Linked DNA regions of Homo sapiens. The protein of the gene in region 1 interacts with the protein of each later gene in a biochemical or structural test. Each region holds a gene or a part of one and is shown in the gene's direction. Other genes may lie near its edges.

The links.
Region 2: the proteins of MATN2 (region 1) and COL1A1 form a complex in vitro, tested with the Homo sapiens proteins (one study listed by BioGRID).

The regions. Positions count from the first base shown.
Region 1 is NC_000008.11:97,875,325-97,879,340, forward strand, and holds part of MATN2 (matrilin-2 isoform a precursor), read left to right. Parts: intron 1-4,016.
Region 2 is NC_000017.11:50,195,132-50,198,631, reverse strand, and holds part of COL1A1 (collagen alpha-1(I) chain preproprotein), read left to right. Parts: intron 1-127; coding exon 128-199; intron 200-426; coding exon 427-471; intron 472-629; coding exon 630-683; intron 684-846; coding exon 847-900; intron 901-1,398; coding exon 1,399-1,452; intron 1,453-1,568; coding exon 1,569-1,622; intron 1,623-1,961; coding exon 1,962-2,015; intron 2,016-2,103; coding exon 2,104-2,148; intron 2,149-2,264; coding exon 2,265-2,318; intron 2,319-2,432; coding exon 2,433-2,477; intron 2,478-2,655; coding exon 2,656-2,709; intron 2,710-2,966; coding exon 2,967-3,065; intron 3,066-3,153; coding exon 3,154-3,198; intron 3,199-3,301; coding exon 3,302-3,400; intron 3,401-3,500. UniProt on the Homo sapiens protein: Type I collagen is a member of group I collagen (fibrillar forming collagen).

The DNA.
Region 1 (4,016 bases):
CTCCCGCAGCTCTCAGGTCTCTCAGTCCCTCTGTTGGTGGAAGGATCTGAGGGCAATAGAGCCTGGAACTGCACACTTTATTTGTTAAGTTAATTTTTTTCTTTTAAATCAGAGGAACATATAAAAAGGTGCACAAATCATGAGGGAAATCTCAATGGAGTTTTACAAGTGAGCACTCTCCACTGTCATGTAACTGCCCCCAAGATCTGCACCCATAGCCCCCTTTGGACCCCAAATAAATTATCGTCTTCCCCTAAGGCAACTACTATTTTACCTTCTATCACCATAGGTTAATTTTGTCTGCTTTATCTTACTTTATTTTTTATTTTTATTTTGCTCTCTGGATCTGTGTAGAGTATTTGCCTGTTTTTTTTTTTTTTTTTTTTTTTGAGGTGGAGTCTCACTCTGTCGCCCAGGCTGGAGTGCAGTGGCTCGATCTCGGCTCACTGCAAGCTCCACCTCCCAGGTTCACACCATTCTCCTGCCTCAGCCTCCTGAGTAGCTGGGACTACAGGTGCCCGCCACCCTGACCAGATAATTTTTTGTATTTTTAGTAGAGATGGGGTTTCACCGTGTTAGCCAGGATGGTCTCGATCTCCTGACCTCATGATCCACCCGCCTCAGCCTCCCAAAGTGCTGGGATTACAGGCGTGAGCCACTGCGCCTGGCCGAGTATTTGCCTCCTTTTTAAGCAAACTTCTCTTTTTTTCTTTTGAGACATGGTCTGACTGTCGCCCAGGCTGGAGTGCAGTGGCATGATCCTAGCTCACTGCAACTTCCTGGCTCTAGCCAACCTCCCACCTCAGCCTCCCGAGTAGCTGAGACTACAGGCATGTGCCACCACGCTTGGCTAATTATTGTATTTTTTTTTTTTTTTTTTTTGAGACAGAGTTTCGCTCTTGTCACCCAGGCTGGAGTGCAATGGCGCAATCTCGGCTCACTGCAACCTCCGCCTCCCAGGTTCAAGTAATTCTCCTGCCTCAGCCTCCCGAGTAGCTGGGATTACAGGCATGCACCACCATGCCCGGCTAATTTTGTATTTTTAGTTGAGTTGGGATTTCTCCATGTTGGTCAGGCTGGTCTTGAACTCCCGACCTCAGGTGATCTGCCTGCCTTGGCCTCCCAAAGTGCTGGGATTACAAGCATGAGCCACCGCGCCTGGACAATTCATGTATTTTTTGTAGAGACAGGGTCTCACAATATTGACCAGGCTGGTCTTGAACTCCTGAGCTCAAGCAATCTGCTCGGCTCAGCCTCCCAAAGTGCTAGCATTACAGGCTTAAGCCACTGCGCCTGGCCTACAAACTTCTTATTGACGTATACATACAAAAAAGTACACTAATCAAGGAAGCAGCTGGATTAGTTTTCATGACATAAACCCATGTGTAACCAGCATTTTGATCAATAAATAGAACATTGCCAGCACCCAGAATCCCCGCTCAGGCTCTTTCTGTGCACTAACAAGCCAAGTCTAACCACAATCCTGATTCCTATGATTGTGGATACATTTTTTCCATTTTTGAATGTTATTTTGTTCAATGTTATATTTGTAAATTTCTCATGTAATTAATATGCCGTAATTAATTCTTTTTTATTGCTGCGTAATATCCCATTATATGGCCACACCACAGTTTTTCTGTACTATTGTTAAGGGCTGTTGAGATTGTTTCCATTCACACTTCTTTTTTTTTTTTTTTTTGAGATAAGGTCTCTGTCTGTCACCCAGGCTGAAGCACAGTGGCATGATCGTAGTTCACTGCAGCCTCAACCTCCTGGTGCTCAAGCAATCCTCCCACCTCAGCCTCCCGAGTAGCTGGGACTATAAGTGTGTACCACCATGCTCAGCTAATTTAAAAAAAATTTTTTGGGGGGGCCAGGCACAGTGGCTTATGCCCATAATCCTAACACTTTGGGAGGCCGAGGCGGGCGGATCATCTGAGGTTGGGAGTTTGAGACCTGCCTGACCAACATGGAGAAACCCTGTCTCTACTAAAAATACAAAATTAGCCGGGCATGGTGGTGCATGCCTGTAATCCCAGCTACTCTGGAGGCTGAGGCAGGAGAATTGCTTGAACCCGGGAGGCGGAGGTTGCAGTGAGTCGAGATCGCGCCATTGCATTCCAGCCTGAGCAACGAGAGTGAAACTCAGTCTCAAAAAAAAAACTTTTTTTTTTTTTGTAGAGATGAAGTCTCACTATATTGCCCAGACTGGTCTCAAATTCCTGGGCTCATGTGCTTCTCCCACCTCAGCCTCCCGAAGTGCTGGGATTACAGGCATGAGCTTCTGCTCCTTGCCTACTTCATTTTGAAAGGGAGTGACTACCTACCCATATCTCAGTTGTCATAAATGCAATTCCACCTGCAGAAATTCAGGAAGGGAAGATTGTATTTAGCACTGGTGCCAAATGCATTCATTAGGAGAGACTTAAAAACAGTCTACTGGTTAGGATTAAGTTCAGCTGCAAGTTACAGAAAAAATGAAATGACAGTGGGTTAAAGAAAGAAGTTTATTTCTGTCTTGTGTTCAAGAAGTCTGGAGACAGTGAGTGTCCAAAGTGTATGTGGGGTAAGGCCCCATGCCCTGTGCCTGGTTGCTTTTAGCATGCATAGCTTCCATTTCCATGCAGTCTCACCCAGGATTTCGGGATGACTGCTGAGTACTAAACCAAAAAACAAAAACAAAAACAAAAAAAAACAAAACCGATGTTAGAGAGGCAGGTAAGGCATTTGAAAACATTGTTTTATGGAAAAAAAAAGTTATGGAACATTTATAAAATGAAAAAAGCAGTTTTTTCTAAATTAACACATTATTTTATAACTTAAAATGTTTTAAATATGTATTTGTGACTTAACTGATACATTATTATAAGTAGATACTTGATATTTCATCTATATCCTTTAAAATATTCAAGCTGACCAAGAAATTGTATGTGGGGTCTTCCAATCAGGAAAAATAGGAGCCAGGCACAGTGCCTCACACCTGTAATCCCAGCACTTGGGAGGCCAAGGCTGGAGGATCATTGAGCCCAGGAGCTCACGGCCAGCTGGACAACATGGCAAAACCCCATCTCTACAAAAAATACAAAAACGTGGGGGTACTGGTGTAGTCTCAGTTACTGGGGAGGCTGAGGCAGGAGGATTGCTTGAGCCCAGGAGGTCAAGGCTACAATGAGCCATTATTGTGCAACTCCAACCTGGGCAGCAATGCAAGACTCTGTCTCAAAAAAAAAAAAAGAAGAAGAAGTCCAGGCATGGTCGCTCATGCCTATAATCCCAGAACTTTGGGAGAGCAAGGCGGGGGAATCACTTGAGGTCAGGAGTTCAAGACCAGCCTAGCCAACGTGGTGAAACCCCATCTTTACTAAAAATACAAAAAATTAGCTGGGCATGGTGGCGGGTGCCTGTAATCCCAGCTACTTGGGAGGCTGAGGCAGGAGAGTCACTTGAATCTAGGAGGTGGAGGTTGCAGTGAGCCGAGATCATGCCACTACACTCTAGCCTGGGCAACAAGAGCGAAACTCCATCTCAAAAAAAAAAGAAGAAGAAGGAAGATGTTATCCTCCTATTACAGTCGCCTACATTCAGGCAAACATAGTACGTAGAGGAAGACATGGACTTGACTTTGGTACTTTTTGGATGCAGAACCAGGGCCATTTTGCTTCAACTAATATTTTGTTAATTAATGAAAGATCAATAAATATGTTTGTTCAAATTAATAATTTTAAAAAAATTTATTCACACAATTTGGTACCTAGCACAAGAAGCAAACAGAGGTGACAAGGTGCATGCTGCAGCAGACAACAAACCCATTGTCAGGGGTCTATGAAGCAGTCAGTTCTCATTAGAAAACCGAGAGAATATTTTACAGCATGAGTGACATGTGAGCTGAGGCTTGAGGACTGAATGCAATTTCGATGAATGTAGAATGTAGAAATTTCAGGGTGAGGGACCGGCATGGATGGAGGCGCCCCGCTATGACAAGAGTCTGAGTTCTTCAAGCCCTAATGGGGAGGCTG
Region 2 (3,500 bases), on another chromosome or scaffold:
AAAAGCAATGTTATTCTTCTCAGCACATCACACCAGGAAGTGCATGATGTCAGTTTCTTCCATCCTCAGTGCCGTCTTCTGCCTTTCAATTCACTGTCCTCACTCTGACTTCTCTTGTTTGTTCTAGAACTTTGCTCCCCAGCTGTCTTATGGCTATGATGAGAAATCAACCGGAGGAATTTCCGTGCCTGGCCCCATGGTGAGCCAGCAGGGGGAGCATGGATGACAGAAGAGAGAATGGGTATCCAGAGGAGGTGGGCATAGGCGGCTGGTATAGACAGCTTGGGAGGTCCAGATCACCTTTGGGACCTCAGAGTCCAGAAAGGATGCAGGACGACTGGGTGGTCCCAACAGGCATGAATGACTACATCCACATGCTTTCCTACAGAGGGATCACCATGACCCCCCTTTCTTCTCCCTCTATAGGGTCCCTCTGGTCCTCGTGGTCTCCCTGGCCCCCCTGGTGCACCTGTGAGTATCCAGGACGTCTTCATATGCCTCCTTGGGCTTTGGTCTTTTGGAGGGAAGACTGGGATGAGGGCAGGAGAGATGCTCAGAGATCTCTTGGTAAGATTGGAGAAGGTTGACAGGGACTTGTCTTCTAACCCATCTTTTTCCTTCTTCTCAAGGGTCCCCAAGGCTTCCAAGGTCCCCCTGGTGAGCCTGGCGAGCCTGGAGCTTCAGTAAGCACTCTCTATACAGATTCATACTCCTTCTACAAACACACAGACTCTCCTATAGAAGAACTCCCAGGCCTGGGGTCTTCCTTACCTCTTCCCTTCAATCCCAGCCTTCCCCTTCTTTTTTTCTTATCCATATTCTAACCACCTCTTCTATCTTTTCTAGGGTCCCATGGGTCCCCGAGGTCCCCCAGGTCCCCCTGGAAAGAATGGAGATGATGTAAGTATCCCCAGCAAGAAGATACCATCTGACCCCATGGCCTCCATGGGTTGGGTCCTGCAATTTCCACTCCACCACATTTGGGAACGATACTCAGAGGAAGGAGGGCAAGTCCTCTCTGATGCACGGACTGCCCTGGAACAATGATCTTTTCGCTTAGTGAGATGATTCCATGTCCCCAACAAAGTGACTGTTCTCCTCACCCCAGCCACCTTAGAGCAATCCCCAACCCCATCCCTTTGGGGAAATTGGTGCGCAGATGGTGAAATTAAAATGCTGGTGACAGAAGTAGACAGAAATTCCTTTAGAGGCACTCAGATTTCACCAAACGAAGGTTTCACTGTAGATTTAAACTGAGCTCTAGATTCAAAGATAAGATTCTGGGCCCCCAAACCTGACCTGCAACAATCCAAAGAAGACTGAGACCTTCTCCACTTTTCCAGCCCCTAGGCGGTGGTGGGGAGGCAGAGGCATGATGGTCTTTTCTCTCCCTCTCAGGGGGAAGCTGGAAAACCTGGTCGTCCTGGTGAGCGTGGGCCTCCTGGGCCTCAGGTGAGCAGGGGGCTGTGGCTGAACCTGGGCTTCACTGCACTTGGGCTTCATTTAGGAGCTGGGTCCACAGTGATGTGTTCTAATGGCCCTTCCTTGTCTTCTTCATCTCTCTCCAGGGTGCTCGAGGATTGCCCGGAACAGCTGGCCTCCCTGGAATGAAGGGACACAGAGTGAGTCACCTTTGAGTCATTTAAGCTCCCCAAGTCCCTAGCATACCCCCATCCAGTCCCAACCTCTTCCCCAAAAGATACTGAGTTGCATCATGGTGGGTGGCAGCTACAGAAGTCCCAAGGGACAGAGAGTGGACATCCAAAAGCACCTCCCTCCATGGGAAAGCAGTCCCGATTAAACGATTGGGTGAGATCTAGAGCCAGTTGGGGTTTAGTCTAGCTCAGAAACAAAGGGATGGCGGTGATGACCTCCCAAGGCTCTTTCTCAGATCTAGGTGGATGTCAAGGCTGTTCCACCCCCTCCACAGGTTCTTACCTTCTACCTCTTTCCTGCTTTAGGGTTTCAGTGGTTTGGATGGTGCCAAGGGAGATGCTGGTCCTGCTGGTCCTAAGGTAAGAGGCTGTCTGAACATCATGGTCCTCCACATCCCCAGAGTCCCACCATGAATGAATTTCTCACTCATTATTCTCTGATCTACAGGGTGAGCCTGGCAGCCCTGGTGAAAATGGAGCTCCTGGTCAGATGGTGAGTGTGCCCAGTTCCAGAGGGCAGGGATGGGGCAGGAGGCAGGGGCAAGATGGAGGCCTGGGGGAACAAGGCTGTCTCCCATCTCATCTGACTTCTCTTGGTTTGGTTGTCAGGGCCCCCGTGGCCTGCCTGGTGAGAGAGGTCGCCCTGGAGCCCCTGGCCCTGCTGTAAGTACTCCTGGCCCCTTGGGGGATCCCTGAGCTCTGGAAGGGGCTCCCCAGGAACTCTAGGGACTGGCCAGTGCTCAGTGGACTTAACGGGGCTTCCCCTCTCTCCTGCAGGGTGCTCGTGGAAATGATGGTGCTACTGGTGCTGCCGGGCCCCCTGTGAGTGTGGCCTGTAGGCCTCAGGGCCTGGGAGTGGGGAGGGGTCTCAGTATCTGCTCTTGGGGCTGACAATGGGAGCAGGTTATGTTGGTCTGAACCCCAGGACTTCCTCTGTCCCAGGGTGTGACTTGCAGCTGCCATCTCTTCCTTCTCGCTGACATCTCCATTTCATTCACAGGGTCCCACCGGCCCCGCTGGTCCTCCTGGCTTCCCTGGTGCTGTTGGTGCTAAGGTGAGACCCCCCACTCTCCTCTAAGCATGACCCTCATGGGCCAAGGGGTTCATGTCTCCCTGTTCCCCAAACCAAAGGGACCCAGAGTGGCAAGAGAGCAGCCCGTTCACTAACACCTTTGTCCTGGGTTCTCCGTCTCTGATCTTAGAGTCCTGATCATTGCTCTCCTGTCCCTGTCTCCCCTTCCTCCTGCCATCCCGAGAGGCAAGGTTGGGTTTCCCAGGGTGGCTTCTGATATGTCCTTTCTTCTGATTCAGGGTGAAGCTGGTCCCCAAGGGCCCCGAGGCTCTGAAGGTCCCCAGGGTGTGCGTGGTGAGCCTGGCCCCCCTGGCCCTGCTGGTGCTGCTGGCCCTGCTGTAAGTGTCCCCGACTCAGTGTCCCCTTTGCCACTTTCTAACCTCAGAGTCCTTGCCTGTTGCTGACACTCCTTTCTCTGTGCCACAGGGAAACCCTGGTGCTGATGGACAGCCTGGTGCTAAAGGTGCCAATGTAAGTATCCTGCCAGGCTTCAGTCCCACTCCTGCCGCCTGCAGCCTGCCTGCCCCTTTCCCTCTGCTCCTAGGCTCACGCCCTGGCTGTCTGCCTCCCACAGGGTGCTCCTGGTATTGCTGGTGCTCCTGGCTTCCCTGGTGCCCGAGGCCCCTCTGGACCCCAGGGCCCCGGCGGCCCTCCTGGTCCCAAGGGTAACAGCGTGAGTACCAAACTCTCCCTTCTGCCCACCCCATGCACTGGCTCCAGTGCGGCTCTCATCTGGGGAGCAGGAAGACGCAGGCCAACTGAGCGCCCCCGAC